Homo sapiens: one gene and its partners. The protein of the gene in region 1 interacts with the protein of each later gene in a biochemical or structural test. Each region holds a gene or a part of one and is shown in the gene's direction. Other genes may lie near its edges.

Region 1 (7,030 bases):
CTTGACACATAGTAATTGCACAATAACTTCTACCTATTATTGAGTTACAACCCAGAGCCTAACACAATATTTGTGGAATGCTTAGGTTCTCAGGCCAGCATACAAGTCTACATTTAACTCTTAAATAAAATAACAGTTTCAAATTGAGTATAATAATGCTAAATGGTGAGACAGGATCAACCCCTCTATCTCCAAATATAGGGGGATTATCTTACCATCCACCTGTTGTATTAGAAAGTCATGCTTCATCTACTTATGGAAGCCAAGACATAGCCTAGATATGTACAAACTATAGATATAACGATGTTAAGGAAAAAAATTGCTGACAATATCACTAGGGATTCTAGACAATGTAAATTGCCATTAATGTTTATTGCTGTGATGGACTTCCTGAACACATTGTTAGAAATTGGTTTGTGGCCAGGTATACAAATAATTCATTGTATGGATTTTATTATTCATCAGTTGATGGACATTTGGGTTGTTTCCACATTTGTTCTCTTATGAATAATGCTTCTGTAAACAGTTGTGTACTAGTTTTTGCATGGAAATATGTTTTCATTTCTTTTGGGTATTTACCTAGTTATGGGTATGCTGCGTCATATGGTAACTCTGTGTTTAACATTTCAGGAACTGATTTCATATCAATTTATATCTCATTCTGTTGTTTTCTTTTTTGGTGTTTTTGCTCCCTAATTTTTTCTTCCGTGTTCCTGTATAAGTTTTATTTTTCACCGTCATCTCAATTCATTCAACAAACATATATCAAGTGCCTACTGCATGCCAGAAACAGAGCCAGGCTTTGGGGAGACTTCAATATTTCAGTGGTGGACTAGGTGTAGTCACTGATCCTGATTTTCCCAGACCCTACCACTTGTGGGGAGACAGAGAAGTACATAACGATTTTAAATTGCTTTGAGATATCTTGTAGTAGAGGAAATACAGAGTGCTATGGGTGTTTATGGAAGAGACATCTCCTGTTTCTTATTTAGTGCTGTATGCGACTTGGGTTAAAAGATCCACACTGATTTCCAGTAGTTGGTATTCCCAGTTGTTGCTATCCTAGAGCCCGATTTGTATGCTAAGATTGCTAATACTGAGTCATGTCAGGTGAATAACTTCCATTTTTAGCAGACTAATCTAATTCCCTTTCATAGTTCAGCTCTCATATTGGAAAAGAACACGAAATAACTGTTAGAAACCTTTTAACATCCTTTAAAATATTTGAAAAAAGAGAAAGCTGGCATGGTGCCTGTTAAACACTGTAGTATTTAAAAGAAAATGTTTGTTGAATGAATAAAAGCATATAGCAGAGTGCTGTATGTACACACAGAGGATGAGCAGTAAATGAATAAATGATGAATTTTCTAAGTGAGTTTCCTGTAGCATGTGACCAAGCAGAATGATTATGAATGAGTTTGACTGCAACGCTTTCTTTGATTATTAGGACTTGTCACCAGGCTTCGGTACCCAGTTAGTGTGAAAGGGAAGAATGCACCCACCACTGCAGGATTCAGCTATGGTAACTCTTATTTTGTGGTTGCATGAGCTAATTTTCCTTGAAAAGAATCCATTGTCATAAGATAAATTTGGATGTGTACTATTTCACATACTGGAACTGTTTTTTATAAGTTTATAGTATAGGTTTTTAGATAATTATACTTAAGACCATAGCAGCCTAGGTATTCAATTTTCATCATTATTCATAATTCCATAGAAAACTTTCTGTCAGTGAAAAATAAGCATTATCATGTTAACATCTAAAATAAATCAAAGCCCTTCCTGGTTCTCACTAGCTTTATTGGCTACAAGAACGTGAGTAAGGATGGAGGTAAGAAAGCAAGCTTCCAACTTAATTGTCTTTGTTGCTTCTGGCAAAAGCCTTTAAAACAGCAAATTAGATTATTTCCAACTTGATGGAATTGAAAAAGAACAACAACAAAAAAAAAACCTGAGAAGGAAGAGTGGTAAAGAAGGAAGTATTTGTTTGACAAAAGTACCTTTAACTTTCAGGCTATATTATTATTAGCTTGTTATGCAGAATTGTCTTGCCTTCTTCATTTCACGTTGGTTAGAAGGGATTCATCCTTCCCACCTTTGGCAGTTCAGATGCAGGTTTCAAGTCTGTTCTGTGTTTTACCAGGAATTATTACAGTGTTATCCTGTAATTTTGAGGTTGATCTTGGTTGTAGGTTCTTTTTCCCCCTCTCTGATTCATGCTACATTTTCCTTTTTAAATATGAACACTTTCACTTTCTGTCCTGCAGAGAAATGGGAGATTAACCCTTCAGAACTGACCTTTATGAGGGAATTGGGAAGTGGACTGTTTGGAGTGGTGAGGCTTGGCAAATGGCGAGCCCAGTACAAAGTCGCAATCAAAGCTATTCGGGAAGGTGCAATGTGCGAGGAGGACTTTATAGAAGAAGCTAAAGTGATGATGTAAGTTGCTATCATCTTTCTGGCTCATCTTTTTGTATTAAGAAGTGGCCCCTTACCAAAAACTTGGTAGTTTCTTTTCCTATAGTAACTATATATATGTCTTCCTTCCCAGGAAACTGACACACCCGAAGTTAGTGCAGCTTTATGGTGTGTGCACCCAGCAGAAACCAATATACATTGTTACTGAGTTCATGGAAAGGGGCTGCCTTCTGAATTTCCTCCGACAGAGACAAGGTCATTTCAGTAGAGACGTACTGCTGAGCATGTGTCAGGATGTGTGTGAAGGGATGGAGTATCTGGAGAGAAACAGCTTCATCCACAGAGATCTGGTAACCCTAGCCACCCATATTCCCACTCATTGGCTGAATTCCTTTGTAACACTGGCTCAGCAAATGTGCAATGATGTATTAATAGCCAATTTTTGTTCTTAACAATCTTTCACCATTATTTTTAAAGTTGGTAAATTTAACTTGCCCTGTAATTTTAAACGAAAGATCTTTATTCAATCTAATGATTTACTTAGTTAATATCTCCAAGCAAGTTTCCATGTTTTAATTTTTCGATCTCCATAAGAATCCCATGAGATAGCTACTCACAGTGGATTCTCTTACCATCATTCTTGTACAGATGAGAAAATTAGCTTCAGGGAAGTCAAAAGGCTCGCCTACTGTGATAAATAGGGAAATTGGGGTTGGCCTTGACTTTCTAACTAGAGCCCAAGTTCTTTTCCACCTCACACACTATAAAAAGAAACTATAAGAGAAATCCTTTGGATTTTTAAAAAATCTCTCAAATCACTGGGAAAACATGGAGGTTCATGTTAACTTCTCAAAATGCTAGAAAAAGAAATCCGTTACCAGTTCTAAATTATGATGGAGACAATTTTTCCCTTCTCACCTGTTCTCACTCTCTCCTCCATTCTTCTTTTCCTTCTGTTTTTCTTCTCTACCTGTTCTTTACAGATGCTTTCAGCTATCAGTAGCACTCTGTCCCCTGAAAATAATCAGCTGAAAATGTCTGTTTTCAGCATATCGGTAGCACTGTCTGTCCCCTGAAAATAATTCTTTTACCAAGAAGAGTGTAATTTTCATTTGGGACTTTCTCCCATATTTTAGTTTTAGCTTTCTAGTGATAAAGCATGGACACATTTCTTTTAGAAAGCAGAAAAACTTTAAAAAAATTTTTTTTTCCTTTGAGACAGGTCTCACTTTGTCTTCCAGGCTGGAGTGCAGTGGCGCAATCTTGGCTCACTGCAGCCTCAACCTCCCGGGTTCAAGCGATCCTCCTGCCTCAGCCCCCAAGTAGCTGAGACTATAGGCACGTGCCACCATGCCTGGCTAATTTTTGTAGAGATGGGGTTTCACCGTGTTGCTCAGACTGGTCTCGAACTCTTGAGCTTAAGCAATCTGCCTGCCTCAGCCTCCCAAGTGCTAGGATTACAGGTGTGAGCCACTGCACCTGGCCTTAGCAAAACATTTTTTAAAGTTAACAGTCACCTTAGACAGACATTGTTCTGATAAGTATTTTACAAATAAACTTGTTTAATCATAATTCTGGGAAGTAGATTTTCTTATTATTCCCTTTTTACAGATGAGGAAACTGAGGTGCAAATAGGATAAAATAACTTCCAATGGGCAAGTAAATTGTAGAGCCAGGATTTGAACCCAGGAAGTTTGGCTCTAAAGTCCCTACTTAACTACTATGCTATGCTCTCTAGAATTAAAACATATTAGAGAATTGAAGATTTGGAGATGGAACACTTTATTTCCTAGGTGTGTTTTGGGATACTTACCTTATCTTATATTCAGTTTCTGTGTCTGTAAATTGTGGGTTATAATGTTGTTTGGCTTCCAGGACTGTTTTAAAGGTCACATTATTTGACTGGGGCAATGGGCTTTGTAAAATAGACATGCTGTAGATAACATCAGTTATTGTTATCATTGTGTCAGGGATGATGAAGAACATCTCGTCAGTTAAAACTTGTGAACTAAGAACTAAGAACAAAATAGATGTCCTTATAAAACTGATAAAAACTGAGTATCTACGTGGGTGTGGCAGATTACACCTGTCCACACAGATGATGTTTTGGCAAAAACGATTCTTACATTTCTGTGCCTGTGATATTGGTATTACTATGGTAGGTTTGTGTCACCCCTTATGGGAAACTTTGGATGCTCTTGTCTCCTTGGTAAAGAATCCTGTTGACCATCCAGTGCAGGCATTGTGGAGTTGTGAAGTGTTTTCATAGGAAGATGCAGGCAGTCCAGGGAATGGATATTAACTCTCACTTTATAAGACTCTTAAAATGCACTCAGCAAGAAGGAACCTCATATGAGTGGAATTGCCACATAGAGAAAATAGAATTATGAACAGTCAGGAAGAAAAACATATCTTGGTCTATGGGTTATGGTATTAAAAATATTATCGGCCAGGTGTGGTGGCTCACGCCTGTAATGCCAGCACTTTTGGAGGCCGAGGCGGGCGGATCACGAAGTCAAGAGATCGAGACCATCCTGGCAAACATGGTGAAACCCTGTCTCTACTAAAAATACAAAAAAAATTAGCCAGGCGTGGTGGCAGACGCCTGTAGTCCCAGCTACTCGGGAGGCTGAGGCAGAAGAATCACTTGAACCCAGGAGGTGGAGGTTGCAGTGAGCCAAGGTCGCACCACTGGACTCCAGCCTGGTGACAGAGCGAGACTCAGTTTCAAAAATAAAAAATTAAAAAATTAAAAAAAAATTCTTGTCTTCCTTTTGAGAAATACCACGTCTTTCTATCAAACTATTTTCTTAAACCTTGTAACCTTGAAGAACATGCAAGAAAATATAAATTAAATAATCCACAATTGTATTTGACCAATTTTGTACATCATGTTATAATATACTGGGAACATAAATGAAAAAGCAAACTGTATTTACACATAGCTGTTCTTTTTGAGACGGAGTCTTGCTCTGTCACCCAGGCTGGAGTGCAGTGGCGCGATCTCTGCTCACTGCAACCTCCACCTCATGGGTTCAAGCAATTCTCCTGCCTCCAGTCCTAGGTAGCTGGTACTACAGTTGTGTGCCACCACACTTGGCTAATTTTTTTTGTATTTTTAGTAGAGAAGGGGTTTTGTCATGTTGGCCAGGCTGGTCCCGAACTCCTGACCTCAAGTTATCCACCCGCCTTAGCCTCCCAAAATGTTGGGATTGCAGGCGTGAGCCACTGCACCCAGCCTGTTCTTTGACTGGGATGAGATGACCAATCACTGAGCAGAAATATTGGATAAGAGATTGGTCGCCCATCATTTTGATGGTTGTGTGTTATTAAGCTCACCTAGTGAGAACCGGATTAAGGACTTCAAGAGATGTTCTCATTGTCAGTAAGAAAATTGGATAGTTTAATAAGAACAGGTCTGGGAAGGAGAAAAGTGAGTTGACCCTTCTATTAGCCCTTGTTTAAGAATGACAGTTGGCCGGTGAGGTTGCTCGTGACTATAATCCTAACAATGGGGGAGGCCGAGGCAGATGGATGAGGTCAGGAGTTCAAGACCAGCCTGGCCAACAAATACAATAATTAGCTGGCTGTGGTGGTGGGTGCCTGTAATCCCAGCTACTCTGGAGGCTGGGGCAGAAGAATCACTTGAAACTGGAAGGTGGAGGTTGCAGTGAGCCAAGATTGTGCCACTGCACTTCCAGCCTGGGCGACAGAGGCAGACTCTGTCTCAAAAAAAAAAAAAAGAAAGAAAAGAAAAAAAAAAGACAATTGGTAAAGATTATGTAATAATGCCTTATTGCAAATACAACTTTCTGACCTGCCTATTCATTTTTTTCAAATACACAATGGAAATACTTCCATAGGGGTAAAAACAACTTATTAAAGGGTGTTTCCACTCTCTGCAAATGTTGACTAGGTTACACTAAATTTAATATAAATAGAACTTACATTTTCCTACTTAAATGATAGAATTTTTAAACTAATATACCATCATAATGTTGTTTTCCAGGCTGCCAGAAATTGTCTAGTAAGTGAGGCGGGAGTTGTAAAAGTATCTGATTTTGGAATGGCCAGGTATGTCCAAGTATACGTGGTTTTAGGTGATGTTTGCATTTTTTTGGTGGAATTAATAAGTGTGGGAATAATTTGCACTGATGAAGCAGAAAGGAAATCTTGTTAACTGGTTCTCAGATTAAATTAAGTATATATTGTGATGGTAGTAATTCTCTCCACTAGGTGGTAGTATAGCCTGTTAAATACACTGTATTTCCTGGTGTGGATTAGATTTCTAGAATCTTTTGTTTTCACAAAAACATATTTGGTGGTGAGGTTCTTAGTATGTCCATGTCTGCAGTGTTTTTCTTCTCTTAATTTTTATAATTTAATAGTATTATAAAATACCTTTTAAAGGTATTTAGTTTATTTTTTCTCTCTTCTCCCTCCGTCTATCCATTCATTCATCCATACATCCACCCATAAAAAATCAGGTGCCTGCTCTGTGCCAGGCATAATGATAAGCTGAACCATATAGAGAATAAGACCTACAAGTCCTTGCCCGCATGCAGCTTACATTGAGGAAGAGGGTGAATCAGAAGACCTGATAAAGTTACAT
Region 2 (7,030 bases), on another chromosome or scaffold:
CAAGGTTAGAGGGAGACTTTTTATTTTTTGCCTTATATAGCCATCTGAATTTTGTACTGTGTGCATGATTTACATATTCAGAAAATAAATATAAGCTAATAAGAGACCAATGACTTTGAAAAGAAGATTGAGAAAGAAAAGCCAAAGAGGCAGGAGGAAAACTAGGAGAGTATATTATCACCAAAGCCACGGGAAGAGAGTGAGTTTTCAGTCCTGTCTAGCATTGCAAAGAGCTCAGTAAAATGGAGATTTTTTTTTTTTGAGATGGAGTCTTGCTGTGTCGCCCAGGCTGGAGTGCAGTGGCGTGATCTCGGCTCACTGCAAGCTCCGCCTCCCAGGTTTGCACCATTCCCCTGCCTCAGCCTCCCAAGTAGCTGGGACCACAGGCGCCCGCCACCATGCCCGGCTAATTTTTTTTTATTTTTAGTAGAGACGGGGTTTCACTGTGTTAGCCAGGATGGTCTTGATCTCCTAACCTCGTGATCCACCTGCCTCAGCCTCCCAAAGTGCTGAGATTACAGGTGTGAGCCACCACGCCTGGCCAAAATGGAGATTTTAAATGCCAAGTTTGATTCAGAAATAGAGAGGTCATTAATGACCAAAGCACTAACCTTGGTTCCACCCTGCCTAATTTTCAGCGCCTAGAAGATTATCAGCGTCGCCTTGATACCTCCAGCCTGAAGTTGTCAGAGTACCCAAATGTTGAAGAGCTCAGGGTGAGAGATGGTCTAATCATAATTTAAAAAATAAAATAAAATTTGCTAAAGACCTGGCAGGTAATTAACATCTCAGTGGGAATATACGTCACCTGAAGGAGTTCTTGTATCGTAGATTATCTGTATTTATGATTTTTTTTGCTGCCTTTTAAATGCTTGATCTGTATGAAATTAGTTTTTCATTAGAGGAATATCTTGCATAAAACTGTAATATTACATGACAGCAATTGGCAGGAGACTAAGGGACACTAATTATTATAAAATTTAATTTTATTGTGTTCTGTAGTTTGTTTCAGACAGGGTCTTGCTCTGTTGCCCAGGCTGGAATGCAGTGGTGCAGTCTTGGCTCACTGAAGCCTTGGCCTCCTGGACTCAGGCAGTCCACCCACCTCAGCCTCCCTAGCAGCTAGGACTATAGGTATATGCCACCATACCCAGCTAATTCTGTGTTTTGTAAAGACAAGGTCTCGCTGTGTTGTCAGGTTGGTCCAGATTTCCTGGGCTCAAGTGCTCCTTTCTCAGCCTCCCACAGTGCAGGGATTACAGGCATGAGCCACTATGCCCAGCCTGTGTTCTGTAGTTTAAATAAGGGTAGGACTGTTTGGTAACTTTCCAGATCATTTAATAACACAAGATAGCATACTATTTTCTCATGAGGCTCTTCAGAAGCATAAAAGTTGGAACCATTACAGGAACGATAGTAAAATGTTTACTAATTGCCACTTCTAGTATGTGGGCTTATGTGTTAACTTTTTCGGATTTTAAGTGTTTTTGTACCATTTCACTAGGTGGTGGTTTTGGCAGATTTATTTGGTGGCTGTTAAAATAGACTTTTATGTCATATATTAATACTTCGTCAACAAGCACGTAAATGTGCTTATTCCCCTTAGCTTCCAAAGAATGAGAGTTTTCTAGAGCTGCTAATACTAAAAGATGATTCTCTTACTAATAAGTTGTTAATATTTAGACCAAGTCTGAGTAGTACCTGGACTTTTCATGAGTACTATTTCTTAGAACTTTCTTTGAAATTAGAGCCTTGGAACTCAGAAGCCACTTTCTTATAGACAAGCATATGTACCATGCTCATCCAGTTATTCATAGGAAAATTAAAGGATACGTTGAGAATCTAGTGACTGAATGTTTGTAACTTGATCTTCATAATCTGTTATCATCTGTTTAGAGTGAGGTTTGAAGATAGTACTCCTGAATGTTCTTCTGCAAGATACCTTTTCCTTTTTAGAAAATTGTATGCAGATTACTTTAATATGGCTTTTGTGCCATTTTCAAGAACTGACAAATAGCAATAATGATAGTTGAATGTAAATGGTGTATTTTATATTAAGAATTTCTTTAAAAGAGACTGTATTATATAGATAATCATGTTACTGAGTGCTTGGAAATTATTTGTGCATGATTTTCTTTATTTTGCCAGAATTTGGATTTAACAAAAAGGAAGATGATTCATGAAGGGCCATTGGTTTGGAAGGTGAATAGAGATAAAACTATTGGTAGGTCTGATATTGTCTTTTAGTTTTGGGGAGAGTGGCAAAAGGGAAGGAATAGGAAAGTTTCCTATGACAAAGGGAAGAGGAGAGAACCATTCTCTCAGCAGTTTGCAGTGCTACCTCGTGTTATTTGTACATTTGTAGATCTGCTTGTGTTATTTCATTATATGTAAGATGTGTTAAATATTCATTTAGGAATGTAGTGGAGAACTGATTTAGTCCTATTTCCATCATTCTTATAGTCTAGTGAGTCTTTGTATGCTTTGTAAGCTTTCTTTAGACCAGTACATCTTAAACTGTCTGTGATGAGGAACCGTTTTTGTTTTTTCAGAAACAAGGTCTTTCTATGTTGCCCAGGCTGGAGCACAGTGGCTAGTCACAGATGCAGTCATGGTGCACTGCTGCCTCGAACTCCTGGGCTTAAGGGATCCTCCTGCCTTAGCCTCCCTAGTAGCCGGGACTATAGGCGCACAGCACCACACCCAGCTTGTTGTTTTTTATTTCCTATTGGTCACAGACTGACACTTCAGTGAAATAAAATAAAAATGAATTACTGAAAATGAAATTTTAAAAGATAATATACAAGTCAATTTTTAAAATTTTGTAGCTTTAACAGAAATAGAATTCCTCTGTTGAATCATTATAAAGTTAATCAAACGCGTCTCCATTTCTGTACTTACCATTTTTTTCTGCACTTTTATTTCTAGATTTATACACGTTGCTGCTGGAAGACATTCTTGTATTGTTACAAAAGCAGGATGATAGACTGGTTTTAAGGTGTCATAGTAAGATTCTGGCATCTACAGCTGATAGCAAACACACGTTTAGCCCTGTCATTAAGTTGAGTACAGTGTTGGTTCGACAAGTGGCAACAGGCAAGTATGTCCACTGAAGGATACTAATTTCCAGATTCATTGTGAAGTTGCATAAGATACTCGGTGCTGTCTCAATAACACAAGTGGCATAGAGTCTTGCTATTTTTATATTCTTAAGCAAATTACATGAAATTTACTGCTTAGAAAGAGACCTAAGAGTTTATACCCCAAAGTTATTAGGGTGTCTCGATTCTGTGAACAGTTTTCTGCATTTGAAAATTTTTATGCTATTACTTTGGTTCTTTATGTTCAAATCATTGATAGATCCCAATGAAAAGCCTTTCATTTAGGGTGGTATGTTTTTTGATTTGGTGAGAAAAAAATCAAAAACCAAAGAGACGGATGTAGTGTTGATTAAAAATCAAATTTGACTGGCAAGTTATATTTTAACTCTATTAACAACGGGGTCCCTTTTAAAACTTGTTAGTTTCATGGTGGCAAAATAAATTTGTGACCTCTTTTCTCCACTACTCACTGAATATTATTAACTAACAACTTAGCAAAAGTGCAGTTCAAAATAAATGCAAAAGAGTAATAGCATTTAATCTGGTAATTTGGATTTATTTATTTTTTTTCTTTTGAGACGAGGGTCCCACCCTGTCACCCAGGCTGGAGTGCAGTGGTACAACCTTGGCACACTGCAACCTCCACATCCCAGGCTCAAGCAATTCTTCAACCTCAGCCTCCTGAGTAGCTGGGACTACAGGCATGCACCACCATGACCTGGCTAATTTTTTTGTTTTATGTAGAGGCAGGGTTTCGCCATGCTGCCCAGGCTGGTCTCGAACTCCTGAGCTCCAAGCGGTCCACCTGCCTCGGCCTCCTAAAGTACTGGGATTACAGGTGTGAGCCACCGTGCCCGGCCAGTAATTTGGATTTTTGACATGCTTTTAGCAAAGTTTCTAGTAAATTATTGTGGAATTAGTGCTAATTCGTATAATCTTTGTTTTATTGAAGTACAATAAATATAGTACAATAAATACGTTAATATGGTAAGTTGCACAAATTTTAAGTGTACATCTTGATGAATTTTAAAGTAAATATATGTAACCTTTATCTAGTTTAAGGGGCAGACTATTTCAAGACCCTAAAAACATCCCTCATGGCCTCCCCAGGTCATAGTATTAGAGTAATCTTGTATTGTTTTTTCCAGATAACAAAGCTTTATTCGTCATTTCCATGTCAGACAATGGCGCTCAGATTTATGAACTGGTGGCACAGACAGTTTCTGAAAAGACTGTGTATGTATCAGATATGGCTACCTTGCTATAGCTAATATTTTCATTATCCCAAGCGTAATATTCCATAAACTTAACTTTGTTTTTATAATGTATGGAAACCAAGCACTTCCTCTGTACTCTTTTAGAGACGTTCTACTATGAACTTGTTCTTTTTTAGGTTGATGCCTTTTATTTTGATTCTATTCTGAAAGTTTATTTCCTAAAGAAAAAATTGTGCAAAATGTCAAGTGAAGTTTTTTTAATGTGTCCATAGATTTCTCTTAAGGTATAGTTTTGGACTCTCGCCTTAATAGTGTGTTGCCAAAATAAAGATATTCTCTGGCAGAGTGGGTTTTGTTGTTGTTGTTGTTGTTGTTGTTGTTGTTGTTGTTGGTTGATTTGGTTTTTGTTTAGTTTTGCTTTCTGAGTATATTTAAAGGATATTTCTTTTTTCTTTTTTGTATTTTGGATTTCTTTCCAACTTTCTGAAGCTGGCAGGACCTAATCTGTCGGATGGCTGCATCAGTGAAGGAGCAATCCACAAAGCCAATTCCATTACCACAGTCAACACCTGGCGAGTGAGTGTTCCTTTGCATTGTAGTAGGACTTATTTTATGTTTTGGGTTGGAAAAGACTAGGATAATTATTATGTTTTGTTGCGATGATGTTTAGATACCTCAGGAAGGTAAAAGTTTTTTTTTTTTTTTTTTTCTCTACAGAGGAGATAATGATGAAGAAGATCCTTCAAAATTAAAAGAGGAGCAGCATGGCATTTCAGTCACTGGTTTGCAGAGTCCAGGTACACTCTTCTGAAGAGTTCAATGGAGAATGTGCTCTATTATCTGTTAAAATGCTGGCCGGATGTGGTGGCTCATGCCTGTAATCCCAGTGCTTTGGGAGGTCGAGATAGGCGTATCACCTGAGGCCAGGAGTTAGAGGCCAACCTGACCAACATGACAAAACCCTGTCTCTACTAAAAAATACAAAAATTAGCCGGGCATGGTGGTAGGTGCCTGTAATCCCAGCTACTTGGGAGGCTGAGGCAGGGAGAATTGCTTGAACCCAGGAGGCGGAGGTTACGGTGAGCCGAGATCGTGCCATTGCACTCCAGCCTGGGCAACAAGACCGAAACACCAAAAAAAAAAAAGAAAAAAAGAAAAAAAAGAAAATAAAATAAAATGCAAAGAAACTTTAATACTGTTTGGTTTATGCAGGTTCCAGCATCAGAGATTCAGTTTAACAAACTTTGCCTTTGAGCCTTCTGTGTGTCAGTATAACACTGTTCTAAGTGATGTGTATTTTTCTTAACAGATGATCTCTGTAGTTTATGGATTGTTTTTTTTTTTTCTGATTCTTCCCTGAATGCTTCATGTTAAAAGTTAAAAGCTTTGTTTAGATATAGTCTACCTTTTCTATTCCATTGGACAGACAGAGATTTGGGATTAGAATCTACCTTAATATCGTCAAAACCTCAGTCTCATTCACTGAGTACCTCTGGGAAATCAGAGGTACGTGATCTGTTTGTGGCTGAGAGACAGTTTGCAAAGGAACAACATACAGATGGGACACTAAAGGAAGTTGGAGAAGATTATCAAATCGCAATCCCAGATTCACACCTGCCTGTCTCAGAAGAACGGTGGGCATTGGATGCACTAAGAAATTGTAAGTTTTATTCATAACTTATTACAGATACTTACTAAGTATGACACTCATGTGCCATCCCTAAAGTATGTGGATTTATCAAACTCCACTTATTCTTCTAGTTCTATTGTGGAGATTATAGTATTCTCTACAGTGGCCCATGCCACAGGCACACACACACATGCCACTCTGTTAGCTCCCCACCCCCCTGCCTGGTTCAGAATCACTGTTAAAATGGGAGGATAGCATATCTCTCAGTTGTATTGAGGTGGGAAAAAGGCTGAGAACAATTTCTTTGGCTGGGGAGAACCACTTGAAATTTTTAAACCAGCGTATGACTAAAGGTATGAAAAAAGATTAATCTGGCTGAAAGCGGTGGAAGGATTTGAATGGAAAGAGGTATGGAATGGTGTACTTACTAAATAAGCTATTATAATAGTCTGGCCTGAGACTAAAAGAGTTTGGACTAGAATGTTATCAGAAGGAATAAGAAGAAACTGAGAAGTCATCAAATGCTTAAAATAATTGACTTCTTTGAATGTGAGGTCAAAGGAAAGGGAATATTTAGAGATAATTTCATTAATCTAGTCAGAAATAAGAGTCAGAAAAGGACTACCACTGCTTCCCCCACCTCCTTCCATTGTACTTTCTTTTTTCTTTCTTTTGATTTGGTAGAATTATAGGCTCAGTTTTAAAGCATGTCAAGATTAAGATAATGAATGACAAAACACTAAAAAGTGAGTAACTAGCAGGAAGTTAGAGTTTTAGGAGTGAAACTTTAGAGAGAGGTTAGGAAGAGATAGAGATGTGAGCATCAGAGCCATGAGACTTCCTGGCATCTCTCAGGAAGTGATTGTAGAGCAGAAGGACAGAGGATGAGAGACCTAAGTGGAACCTGTTGCCTAAAGAAACATGACAGACATTAAGCTAGTGATGAGAGCAGAGAATTGGTTATTTAAAACCTACAATATTTTTTATACCTTCTCCTGAATTAACAGTCTTAATAATTTCTGATGGTTGGAATAACATTGTCCCAATAACTCTATCATTGTCTGGGTGACCTCATAGCATAC
Region 3 (5,304 bases), on another chromosome or scaffold:
AGCAGCAACTAAAAGTGATGTATCAGAAGGACATTTAATGCTTTGGGGATTGTGCACTCTGTATTGTTAGATAAAAAGACAAGTTACAAAAGGGTATGTTTAGTTTCATACTGACTATGTAACCATGTATGCACATTTTTATATTCTTAGGAACTGGAAAGTTTTACACACTGACATACTAACAGTGATTTTCTCTGGGAGATACTATTATAGATTATTTATACTTTCTAATTTGCTCCTTTTTACATTTTCCATTTTTTTCCGGTTAACTAATTAAATCTTTTATTCATTCACATGTGTGAGGCTAGATGTTGGGTGTTGGATGCTGATTGAGGATGAGCCAGCCCAGGGGGCCTGTCCTTATGGAGCTTTTAGCAGGGGGAAGAAGCTAAACAAAAGCAAGCAAACAGACCATGCAATTCCAAAGTTGTACTAAGTACAACCTGAGAATCTTCTTTAAGGAGGTGTTGTTTACGCTAACACCTTGGGGGTCAGAAGCCCGATGAGTGAACGGCTGTGTGCATGTGCTGTGGAGTGGGGTGGGGCTGGGGGCGGGCATTTCAGCGCTGGGAACGGCACATGCAAAAACCCTGGGGCAGGAAGCACTCATAACCAGTGTCTAGGATATCCTTGCAATTTATTTATTCCAGTATAGGTACAGCAGATATTCTTAGTGAGCATGTTCTGTAAGAATAACGTTGTACTAGGCTCTGTGAGGGATATAAAGACATGCAACATGTGGTTCTCTGTTCCGTTTCCTGCCGGTGCGTGGCTGAGTGCCAGATTAGTTGCTCGGGTGGTTTGCGGTGTAGGAATGCAGAGGAGACTCAGTTTTGCCTTTCCTGTTCGCTAACACCTCCTACATGGTGGGTTGTCTTGGATGACTAGAGAGGTCATGATTGCTCAGCTAATGTTCTCTGTGGATTGGGCCATTCTCATACCATATGTGAGTTTTACAGGCTAATCACGAACCTGACATAGACAAGCATCTCCTGTGAATATTTATTGAAGTCTCAGTTAGCTGAATTCATTAGCTAAGTGGCAGCTGTCTATCTTGTCTGAAACAGTTGAAGTCAGAGAAATAGTGTCTGTTTTGAGAACTATTGTCTATCCTTCCATTTAATTTGTCCAACATTTGCTAGTAACATGCCCTGTGTTAGAAACTGGGCTTCTCTGGTGAACTCAACGTATCGTAAGGAACTTGTCGTTATTTGAGGGGAATAAGATAATTTATGTAGTTACCCCAGAGACAAGAGGAGTCAGAAATGACAAGAGAGGGGAAGACAGAGGGATCCTAGATTTCAAAAGAGGGGCAGATCATATTTGATCAAAAAAGGCTTGAGAGGGTTTCCCAAAGAAAGCGGTAATAGGTAGTCCTTATGGGATGTTTAGGAATTTGACACAGAAATCTGCTTGAAAGAACATTACGGGCAGAAGACATGGCATGAACAAAGGCACAGAGGAAGGAAAGTGGGGGTATGTGTAGGCCACAGAACTCCCGTTGTGTGGCAATGCTCAGTGGGAGTAAGGAGATAAGGCTGGACAGATGGGCTGGGATTGTGTGATGGGGATACTTGTATACGACGGCATCTTCGGGGAGGAGCAATTAAAGGTGTTTGAGGACTCAGTGATATGAGGTGATTGTCAGAGGTCTTAAGATAATTAATTTGGGGCAGATTGTAAAATGTCACTGGGGGAAGATCTGGTGACACGCAGACAGATCAGTAGTCTTCTTCAGCCTCTGTCCTGTAAGTCTTTGGAACAAGAGAATCAGAGTGGACAGAGCCCTGGAATTGGCGTCAGGAGAGCAGGGTGTGGTCCCATCTGTGATGCTGACTAGCTGGGTCTTCTTGGATTAGTCACCCAACTTCTAAGCTCATTTTGCAATCGATAAGGTGGGACAATAATACCTACCTCAAAGGGTTGTGGTGAGTTCTAAATGCAATAACTGACATGACAGCTCTTTATGAATAAATGTTTATATTAATTATGTTTTATTGTAACATTATAATTTATACATATGTCAATCTTAATTTGGTTTATTTTTTTACCTCTTTGTTTCTGAAATATAGACTACTATGAATCCTGCAGTTCAGACCTACATGATTAGTATATGTTAGACTGTTGCCATTTACGGTTTTAAAATCTTTTTTTTAAAATGATTGGATTTAAATTCCCACCAAAATAATAGTTGCTATTTCATTTTAACATATATTTTTCCTCTCTCTATGATACAGGCCACCCCAGTCCACCCCCTGAAAAAAAGGAGCTGAGGAAAGTGGCCCATTTAACAGGTCTGTATCTGGAAGGTACAGGTGAGATTTGGGAAAGCTTTTGGCAAAAGGCAAAATGGCTGCCTGGTTTCCATTACCAGGCTCTAGAGAGTTGTTACTTCCTGGAGACAGTATTTGAACCCAATAATACTAACACTTTTCTTGTCGAGTCAGTCTTATGAACACACTTTGATCCCCTATTCTCTGGGCAAGGCCCTCTTCTAAATTGGAGACCTGGAGCTGATTATGACATGACCCCTGCCCATAAGAAGCTCATTCTTTTCAGTCATTCCAAAGTCCCTTGGGGGATTGGGGGCACAGATCCAAGAGGTGAGAGATGAGAAGGTGAGGAATGAGGACTTATTTTAGTCAGTGCTTTCTTGGTTTTCTGGAAGAGCTTCACTCTGCTTTGTCCAAGAGTATAAATAGGAGTGAGAAGGGAGACTCAATCCTGGCACTTGTAGAGTTTCAATATGTGCCTGTAAAGTGGAGTGAAATGATATGGTATGGGCACTCCCATTATAAACTACATAAATAATGGAATAAATATCACAGAAAGTGGTAGGCTATTGTCCCTGGAATTATTTAGGCAGAAATTATAGAATGATCCGGTCACATCAGCAGACACTTACTGAATACCTGCTGTGTGCCAATTTGGGGATGTGAAGATGAGTAGCACATGGCTCTTGCCCCCAGGGAGCTTGACATCTAATAGGGAAAGACAGGCACTTATGATAATTTCAGTACTTCAGAGATTTAGGTTATGTTCATGATGTTGTGGGGATACAAAGAAAAGGGAACTGTACCCCAAATTGAGGGGCTGAATAATTCTTACTGCAGGTGAGAAGATGGACCAGATGGTCCCTAAGATCCTTCCCAACTTTAGAACTTTAGAGTTCCTTGGATTTGGCTTTTTCCTTCAGGAAAGGACTTCAAAGCCTAGCAGATTTGGTGCTAGTTCTGAAGATAGTAAAATCTTTGTTCCAGAGAGCAAATATTTTCTCAATAATTTCTTACTGCAATGGATTACGGGTATATACTATTGTTCCAATTGTGTGGATGACAAAATAGGACAACGTTGTTGAGGAAATTCTGTGATGGATCAAGTTCTGACCCCTCAGCCAGTTCTATACCAGCTGTCATTCTGGGTGAAACATTTGTTGAAGGAAGGGCCCACAGTTTTGCCTTAGAAACTTAGTTTGTTGGATGCATGACTATTCCTTGTTGAAAGCTCCTTTTGGATTTATTTCAGGCAAGTCCAACTCAAGGTCCATGCCTCTGGAATGGGAAGACACCTATGGAATTGTCCTGCTTTCTGGAGTGAAGTATAAGAAGGGTGGCCTTGTGATCAATGAAACTGGGCTGTACTTTGTATATTCCAAAGTATACTTCCGGGGTCAATCTTGCAACAACCTGCCCCTGAGCCACAAGGTCTACATGAGGAACTCTAAGTATCCCCAGGATCTGGTGATGATGGAGGGGAAGATGATGAGCTACTGCACTACTGGGCAGATGTGGGCCCGCAGCAGCTACCTGGGGGCAGTGTTCAATCTTACCAGTGCTGATCATTTATATGTCAACGTATCTGAGCTCTCTCTGGTCAATTTTGAGGAATCTCAGACGTTTTTCGGCTTATATAAGCTCTAAGAGAAGCACTTTGGGATTCTTTCCATTATGATTCTTTGTTACAGGCACCGAGAATGTTGTATTCAGTGAGGGTCTTCTTACATGCATTTGAGGTCAAGTAAGAAGACATGAACCAAGTGGACCTTGAGACCACAGGGTTCAAAATGTCTGTAGCTCCTCAACTCACCTAATGTTTATGAGCCAGACAAATGGAGGAATATGACGGAAGAACATAGAACTCTGGGCTGCCATGTGAAGAGGGAGAAGCATGAAAAAGCAGCTACCAGGTGTTCTACACTCATCTTAGTGCCTGAGAGTATTTAGGCAGATTGAAAAGGACACCTTTTAACTCACCTCTCAAGGTGGGCCTTGCTACCTCAAGGGGGACTGTCTTTCAGATACATGGTTGTGACCTGAGGATTTAAGGGATGGAAAAGGAAGACTAGAGGCTTGCATAATAAGCTAAAGAGGCTGAAAGAGGCCAATGCCCCACTGGCAGCATCTTCACTTCTAAATGCATATCCTGAGCCATCGGTGAAACTAACAGATAAGCAAGAGAGATGTTTTGGGGACTCATTTCATTCCTAACACAGCATGTGTATTTCCAGTGCAATTGTAGGGGTGTGTGTGTGTGTGTGTGTGTGTGTGTGTGTATGACTAAAGAGAGAATGTAGATATTGTGAAGTACATATTAGGAAAATATGGGTTGCATTTGGTCAAGATTTTGAATGCTTCCTGACAATCAACTCTAATAGTGCTTAAAAATCATTGATTGTCAGCTACTAATGATGTTTTCCTATAATATAATAAATATTTATGTAGATGTGCATTTTTGTGAAATGAAAACATGTAATAAAAAGTATATGTTAGGATACAAATAATTTTTAGAATTTACTAATATTTGAATTTTTTGCTTATTATTTCTTTCCTCCTTGATTTCTTCATTCATTATGATATCAGACCACTTTTAAGAATAATTTACTGGAGTGAGAAGAACTATGAATCAAATCTTTCTGCCTTTGCTAGGCCTTCCTTCTCTCTATATATTCTCTTTCCTCTTCACCTCCCAGAGTTTCCATTACCAATATTATGACCAATGTTAAGCTTAGCCAACTTTCCATAGATTTGATGAGAAATTATATTTTCCTGAAGGCAGAACCATGGCACAGTGGAAAGGGCACATATTTTGGACTAAAAAACTTAGATTTGAATCTTTGTTCTTCCACGTACTGCCTATGTAAGCACTGGTTAGGTCACTTGACCTTCCTTGAACAAAAAAAGAGCTGAAAGTATCAGACACATAGAACATCAAAAAATAGTGTCTGCCACTACTAAGCCACTCTATTAGAGCCACTTCATTCTCCAGAGGCCACTGATCTGTGGGATCCATCTAAGCACCTGGTTT
Region 4 (7,659 bases), 6.5 Mb from region 1:
TCGAAACAAACAGGCTCAACTCCAAATCCTTCACTGTCCACTAACAAGTACCTCCATGTCTTGCTGGATGGGAGCACATGTAGCTCCACAATACTTTTGGTCACACAGGCCTATTGAATCTTAACTTCCTTATTCATCCCCTCTCACTATTCTCACCTCTGTGGACTTAATTCAGTTCCCTGTTTCTCCTGTGGATCACTGCATTAGGCTCCTTACCATTTTCTTCCTGCCTTAACTTTTGCCCCCTTTCAAGTCACCCTTCACTGAGTTTCTTCACTATCTTTCCAAAAATGTAAATCTTAGCACAACAGGCTGCAGCTTAAAGTCCTTTAGTGACTCCCCGTAGCTCAGAGGATGAGGTTCTCATTTCGGAGTATTTACAGTTCTTGTCTATCTCTGTGGCCTCGACTCTCCCCACTCTCCTCCAAGCCCCATTTCCTTGACTGGGCAGCACTCCTTGTTCTTCCTATTCCTTATGCTGTTTCCTGCCTCTAGCCCCGTGCGTTTGTACTTCCCACTGCTGGAACATTCTTCTCTCCTTTCCCTTTCCCCGCTCCTGATCCTTCAGAGTCTAATACCCACCTCTCTGGGAGGCCACATGAGCTCACTGGACAGGTGCTCCTCTGTGTGCAAACATCACTGTGCATGGCTCTGTTAGAGTACTTCATGCCATGTAATTTTTGCCCCTTTATTCATCTCTCCCCTCATTTGCTGGAAATCCTGTGAGGGCAGCATCTGTGTCTTGTCTAACTTGGTATCCCTGACACCTAATACACTACATCTGACACAGAGATGTTCAATTAATACTGAATGAAAGCTGGAACGAAGACCATACATTATCTCCTTTCAGACTCACAAACTGTGAAGTGGTTATTGTTAGTATAGAATCTAACCGGGGGATTGTATTAATCTATTCATTTCTTCAACTTTATGGACAAAAGACTTTCAGATGATTGCTGAAAACCAAGAAAAGCTATTAAAAAGCAAACTTGAAAAGGATTATACTCTTGTTGTAGTAATTCCACCCCTGGTTAGGAATGCATACTTAATAACTAATCAGAAGCAGGCAAGTTTTATTCACCAAGACATTAATCATCAAGTAATTTATGATAGTAAAAAAATTGGAAAAAAAAGAGAGAAATGATTAAACACCCAGAATTATGGTACATCCATAAAATTGAACATTATACTGCCATTAAACAGTGTGTTTCCAAAGGATTTTTAGTGATCTGTAATAATGCTCATGTTATTTGTGAAAAAGCTGGATAGAAAACTGAAAATATACCAAGATCTTAAATTATGTAAAGGGAAAAAAACCTCACACATAAATAGAGAAAAAAGAAAGGAACATATTAAAACAAACTCTTCAGTGATTGTATCTTGAGTGCCTTTTTTGTTTTTTATAATTTTTGGTATTTTCCAAATTTTCTACAATAAGCATCTTTTACAGTCAGAAATATAATAAAATATTTTCAAGTTCGAGATTTTAGCTGTGTTAGTTGTATTTGTGTGGCATTATTACTCTTTCTTCTGTTGATGGTGCATCAGTTTTTCTTTGGGGATGCACCCTTCCCCATCTCAGGCCTCTGGTGTGAAGTGGATCCCTGACCCCGGCTTCAGGGGTGGGCACATGACTCAGACATGGCCAATCAGCATACTCCATCCCTCTGGCTCCTTCCCAATGGGCACATGACTTAAGCCAGGTCAGTGAGACTCGGTTTCTCCCATAAACTTTTACAGGAGATGTTTATGGGGGCAGGAAAACTCTACTTCCGTTGGTACTAGTGAGCTGTAAGCCTAGAGCTGCCCTGAGTGTATACAAGGTTGGCAAAACAACACAGGAAAGTATTGAGGATAAAGGTGGAGGAAAGTGTACGTGCACTTGTGCACACATGCATCCACACACACTCGCCCTTCAAGTCCTGATAACTTTGAGTCCTTGGATCTAGGAAAGTCTGAAACACTATTGTCCCTGGACTTTCTGGTTATAAGAGCCAATACATTTAGGCTTCTTTGTTTGCTTGCTTAATTTAAGCTGCTTCTATAAGTTGCAATCGAGAGTCCTTGCTAAAAGAATTATGAAAACAATGAAATACATAAAGCACAATCCCTGAACATGCCCAGGACTATCACAAAATACAGTATAGAATTAATCCATACATCCTACCTGAGATATAAAACATTTCCATCATTGCCAATGTTCCATTGGACACTGCTGATCTATAATATAGTTCCTTATATATTACAGCATATATGTCCACTCATAGTGCCTTATATATATGCTTCCTTTCTTTATGTAACAGGCAGTGGGTATTATTAAAAACAGCTAACAACCCTAAAGGTACAAGTACTGGAGGCTCTCTGTTGTGGCCAGCATTAAAATTTTAATTCCTGGATCTAAGGAGATTTAGCGTGTCTCAAGGTTGGGCTGGGAGATATTTTAGGGTATGGTTTTTTTTGTAATCAGTACAGAAGGATTTCAATATTGTGTCAACCAATAAGGCCAAATTGGTGTGTACTGGCTGAACATAAGCTCTGTTAGCAGATATTATAGTTTCTTACTTGAGTACCTATTTTCCCTGCTGGACTGTGAATTCCCCTAGACAGAGACTTTGTCTTACTCATTTATGTGGGTCTTATGCCTACCTAGGTGCTCAAAAGATATTTGCTGAATGAAAAACAGGAATGACGGTCCAACATGGTATAACTCCCTATTCAGTTTTTTTTTTTCCTGATAGAAGTTCCGTGCCTAGAATTAAATTGCAATATGGTCTCTTTTCACCCACTCTTTTGAAGATGTTATCCTCTCCAATATCAGCTGATTGAAGAAGAAAATTGTAAATTTTCTCTCTCAGGCATAATGTTGATATTTTAACTCATAGTGATTTTTTCTCAATACAAAATGAATTTTAGAAATAAATCAAGATCCCAGAAACTTATGATTGCTTTGAGTGGTATCTTTTATCTGTCATCCTAAGAAAAACATGAGATCTGATGGCCCAGAGCACAGAGACCTTTGGTATTTCAGTTCTCCTACAGCCGCATGACTCGAACCTTTTGCTGGGAGATTGGGATGTAGGTCCCCATACTTGATTATAAGGACTGTGAGGGCAGGGGCCACATCTGCATATCTGTCTATTAATAATAGTACTCCTGGTACCTAGCTCCTCCTTGCTTCACAGCAGACACTAAACAAATGCTTGCTGAGTGAGTAAATACTTACATTTAAAGAGAGGCAATTATACACATTGATCATTTGATCACCCTCTAGCACTGATAATTTTTAAGTGATTAGCTTTAAAAATCATTTTTCTTACATCAACCTGGGTCCTCACACTATTAAACAACAGGAGAGCTTTCAATATTAAATGAAGTGGGGCAGCTGGGCAACTGTAAATTTTGGATGATACTTCAGAGAAGAGTCTAGGTGTATCTGTTCTATCCCTTTTTCTGATGGGCATCTGCCATTTATTTTTCCATTCTTAAGCTCTCAGGAGGGATGTCTTATTAGTTTATCAGAATGCATAGGGAAAGCTCATCTTTCTTGGAGTAGGTCTTCCAATAAGTGTTCAAGCCCTGGGTCTTCCCTCACTACAATAATAAACATACCTGCTCTACCCTCCTCACAAAGCTGTTATCGTGAGCATGAAAAGACGAGTCGCTGTGGGGAAGAACTATTAACCCCTATACAGATACTGTTGTTGCTTTCCGTTCAAGGATCCACCATGAGACTGTGGGTAAGGCACTTTCTGGGCAGTGAAATCGGGCTTAAGAGAATCATTGTACTTTTATTTTGCTCCTGGGACCGGCAAGGGCAGTTAAGAGCCCTAGCCCTAAAACTGTCGTCTGTTACAGAGGCAGAGAAATCATTACTGGGGTTGGCAGCGTTGGGGGGAGGGGGGAAAACGTGTATGAAAACCTGGGCTCCCAGAGCAAACTTCGCCACGCGCCCTCCATCGCCCCTGTCTCCACACAAGTCCCGGCAGGGGCTTCTTGGGCGGAGGCCACGCCGACCAATAGGAACCCACTGTGTTCCTACAGGTTACGAAGCAGGTGGAGAAATTGAGCAGAAACAATTAGCGAAACCGGGCTCAGCCTTTACCGCGGTGCCAGGAGCTCCTAACAGGCCTGGAGGGGAATGTCGGGGCTCAATTTCCTAACGCTCCCCTCCCCATCCCCATGCCACCTCCACGAGCAGCGGCGTCCAGCCTCCTCCCGCCCGAACGTGCTCGAGGGGCGGGCAGTCGACCTTTATTGTCTGGGGAGCACCTGGCAGGTGGCGGGCCCGTGCCCTAACGTGTGCGTGGTGCCCAGCTTCACAAAGCGAGCGGGCAGCACCTCCTTGGTCCGGGAACGGCCTCAGCCTGGCCGTCCACATCCCAGGGGTGGAAAGGTGGAGAGAGAAAGGGGCTCCGGAGTCAAGAGCGGGGAGAGAGGGCGCGCGCGCCCTCCTCCTCCCGGCGGGCACGGCCCCCCGGCATTAACACGTCGAAAGAGCAGGGGCCAGACGCCGCCGGGAAGAAGCGAGACCCGGGCGGGCGCGAGGGAGGGGAGGCGAGGAGGGGCGTGGCCGGCGCGCAGAGGGAGGGCGCTGGGAGGAGGGGCTGCTGCTCGCCGCTCGCGGCTCTGGGGGCTCGGCTTTGCCGCGCTCGCTGCACTTGGGCGAGAGCTGGAACGTGGACCAGAGCTCGGATCCCATCGCAGCTACCGCGATGAGAGGCGCTCGCGGCGCCTGGGATTTTCTCTGCGTTCTGCTCCTACTGCTTCGCGTCCAGACAGGTGGGACACCGCGGCTGGCACCCCGACCGTGCGACTACTCGGCGAAGCCTGTGCCTGGGAGGGTGGTACCCGCCAGGGTGCATCCGGAGAGAGGACTGCGGGCCCTCAGTGCCCGTGCGTTCCAGCCTCCGGGGAGACTCCAGGTGGCCCTCGGACTCTCCGGCGCCCTGCCTCGCTCACCTGCGCGAGGAGACCCCAGCTGCTGGTGGTGGGGGACGCGAATCCGGGGTTCTTCGGGAATGGGGACAGCAAGAGGGGGTTAGGCGTGAGCGAGGCTGCAGGCTCCGTGCGAGTTTGGGGTGGCTTTTGTGCCGACGTTGCGCGGGGGGCGGAGGCGGGGGGCTCAGGGGTTTGCACCGAGCGCCTTCTCTTGCCGTGCGAGGCGCGGCCGCAGCTTCCTTTTGTTAAAAGTTGCGTGTGTGTGACCGGCGCCCGGGAGGACCTGCCTGCAGGTTCTCCGCCGCGCTGAGGGCAAAGTTAGAGAGCCCTTTCTCTGCTCTGCGGCTACTGCCTTCCAACCGCAGGCGCTCTTTGTGCCCAGAGCTGGGGACCGACCCGCTGCCGCCTCTGCTCGCGGCGCCACCCGTGGAGACCAATCGAAGGCTGCGGCGTTTCCCCGCCTCCGGGTTAGGCTTTTGCGCTGGGAGTGCGCGGCGTGGGGCTGTTGTGGGGCCGGACTCCCGCGAGCCTGGAGGTGGTGGCGACAGGGACAACTTGGGCAGGGCGTGTGGAAAGCAGCCGCTAGGTTGCAGACTTTTTGCTTTCGTACATCCCGTGCTCGCCCCTTTCTGCCGCGGCGCCGTTTCATTCCTGCCGCGCGCCCCGGGGCGGCTGGAGGCTGTGTTTGCCGCCTGCTCCGGGAAGGCAAGGGACAGCGTGCTGGGACTCTGCGTTCCCTGACTCCAACCGCCTAGCACGCCGGCCAGAGTGCCCGGCCTGCCTGGCGGGTTCTGAAAGCCCCTAGTTCCCGGTGTCTGCGACCTGTATTCGCAGGTCCTGTTTTCTTCGGAAATTTTTGAGATTCGTGACCGCCCGCCTCCCCGCCCCCGGGACTTCTATACTTCAGGGCTGCCTGGGGGTGGGGTGGGAGATGGCGTGGAACTTTCTGCAAATCCTACTCAGTTCTTAAAGCTATAACAGAAATCCAGGTATATCCGCGCGGGAACTGGGTCTTAGGTGAAGGATTTGCAGGTTGCTGGAGCCCCTTGGTCAGATTCCTGCCTCCCGTTCCCTTTTTTCCAGGTGTCGCTGGTGCGGGCGAGTGCAGGTCGCCCAGCTCACCCCTGAAGCCCTGCTATCTCCCAGGTCATTTTTTAAAACAAACCTTTAAGGTTACCCTGATGATGTAAGGATAGAAAGTGAGTCTTAGCTGGAATCAAGCGCTTGAAAGGAAGCGGCGCAATGAACGGTTTTGAGACTGTCGACTACCGGTCAGTTTCTCTATAAAGTCTCCAGGCGCAGTCTGCAGCGTCCTGGACTTGTAACTATTGTGAGGGCTTTCCTGTGGGGGGCAGAGAGGCCTTGCATCTGGACCCCTGTGCAGCAGGAGGGGTCAGCAGGGGTCACGAGGGAGTGTTCGGATTCTCTGGAGGATTTGATCACCTAGCTTAAAACAACACATCTGGTCTTTATGTTTTTGTGCCTTGACCTTTTTAATATCAGTTAAGCTATGTGAACTAGAACCTAGTAGGAGACTAGAAAGACCACATCGAATATCTCCCTTTTAAAAAATTAAAAGAATCAATGGTTTTCTTCTCCCCAATAGATTTTTGGCAAAGGGAATTTTAAGGTCTGTCTCCTGGGGGGGCAGTGTGGTGTAACGACAAAGCCTTGCTCTGTCCCCTGGGTTCTCGGTTTCTCTGCCATTTCTTGGCTGCGTGCCCTTGGCCAGGTTGCTTAGGGCAGGTTGCTTAAATTCTGGGAAACGCAGTGTCCTCCAGAGTACAAGGAGGCATCTGCATCATGAAGGATCCTTTGGGTCCAGAATTCTCCTCCAATGTTCTGAGTGTAGACTCAGCACTCTTTTTAACTATTCCCCTGGCCCCTGTCTGCCTCTTTGAAATTCCTCTGCCTCTCCTGCTCACAGGGAAGTCATAGAGTATGGGTGCATCTGACCGGTCTGCCCCTGACTGAAGCAAGGAGCTGTGGCTTATGCTTACTGCCCTTCAATTCCCATATATTCCTCTGCATTGCCCTTTGAGGGCCCCCGCCCCCCAAGTATTACAGCTCCTGTGCCTAACAGGATGAACCTGCTAGGAATAGTGAATCATACCTTCCCCGTTTCGTTCCTGCAGGTGTGAGGCTGGAGTCATTCTCAGCAGCTGGACACAAGGCACTCTAAATTATTATCCTGCTGGAAATAAGAGACCCCAGATAATTCATTTATCCCTATTCTGTTTTTTCCCCCACTCATTCCCATTTTTTTTCTCATGACTCTGTAAATCATGTAATGCTATGCATTTATAGCATGCTTTCTAATGGGCCTTAAGTTTCGTATGACATGTGTGGTGTACATAGTTGTTGCTCTTCAGTTGGAAACTGTGTGCCAGGCCTTTTGCTTGGGGCTTTACCTATTTCTAGTAGTCTCAATGAGCCTAGGAAGTAGTACTATTATTACCCCTAACATTTTACAGCTGGAGAAACTGGCTAAGGATAAGCCCTAAATCATCAGTGGTGAAGCCTGATGAGATTGGCTGCATGTGCCCAGCTCTATAGCCATTCACATGATTCACCAGAATCTGTTGTAAGACTCATTCAAAAATATTTAATGAGTTTTTACTATGTGCCAGGGATTGTTGGAAGTTCTGGGAATACAGGATGGCCAATGTCACTACCTTCCCAATTTTGGTGAAAAATATTTAGAATTGCGTGTCTTATGAA

Evidence for each region.
Region 2: of the proteins of TEC (region 1) and ARHGEF12, one has a biochemical effect on the other in vitro, tested with the Homo sapiens proteins (one study listed by BioGRID).
Region 3: the proteins of TEC (region 1) and FASLG interact in a test that uses a peptide from one of them, tested with the Homo sapiens proteins (one study listed by BioGRID and IntAct).
Region 4: the proteins of TEC (region 1) and KIT form a complex in vitro, tested with the Homo sapiens proteins (2 studies listed by BioGRID and IntAct, with this or other methods).

What each region holds. Positions count from the first base shown.
Region 1 is NC_000004.12:48,140,817-48,147,846, reverse strand, and holds part of TEC (tyrosine-protein kinase Tec), read left to right. Parts: intron 1-1,447; coding exon 1,448-1,522; intron 1,523-2,267; coding exon 2,268-2,439; intron 2,440-2,551; coding exon 2,552-2,768; intron 2,769-6,427; coding exon 6,428-6,492; intron 6,493-7,030.
Region 2 is NC_000011.10:120,472,412-120,479,441, forward strand, and holds part of ARHGEF12 (rho guanine nucleotide exchange factor 12), read left to right. Parts: intron 1-638; coding exon 639-716; intron 717-2,148; coding exon 2,149-2,224; intron 2,225-2,928; coding exon 2,929-3,096; intron 3,097-4,249; coding exon 4,250-4,337; intron 4,338-4,807; coding exon 4,808-4,894; intron 4,895-5,035; coding exon 5,036-5,115; intron 5,116-5,744; coding exon 5,745-5,978; intron 5,979-7,030. UniProt on the Homo sapiens protein: May play a role in the regulation of RhoA GTPase by guanine nucleotide-binding alpha-12 (GNA12) and alpha-13 (GNA13). Acts as guanine nucleotide exchange factor (GEF) for RhoA GTPase and may act as GTPase-activating protein (GAP) for GNA12 and GNA13.
Region 3 is NC_000001.11:172,662,097-172,667,400, forward strand, and holds the end of FASLG (tumor necrosis factor ligand superfamily member 6), read left to right. Parts: intron 1-2,237; coding exon 2,238-2,294; intron 2,295-3,525; coding exon 3,526-3,920; 3' UTR 3,921-4,780; downstream 4,781-5,304. UniProt on the Homo sapiens protein: Cytokine that binds to TNFRSF6/FAS, a receptor that transduces the apoptotic signal into cells. Involved in cytotoxic T-cell-mediated apoptosis, natural killer cell-mediated apoptosis and in T-cell development.
Region 4 is NC_000004.12:54,653,303-54,660,961, forward strand, and holds the start of KIT (mast/stem cell growth factor receptor Kit isoform 1 precursor), read left to right. Parts: upstream 1-4,654; 5' UTR 4,655-4,712; coding exon 4,713-4,779; intron 4,780-7,659. UniProt on the Homo sapiens protein: Tyrosine-protein kinase that acts as a cell-surface receptor for the cytokine KITLG/SCF and plays an essential role in the regulation of cell survival and proliferation, hematopoiesis, stem cell maintenance, gametogenesis, mast cell development, migration and function, and in melanogenesis.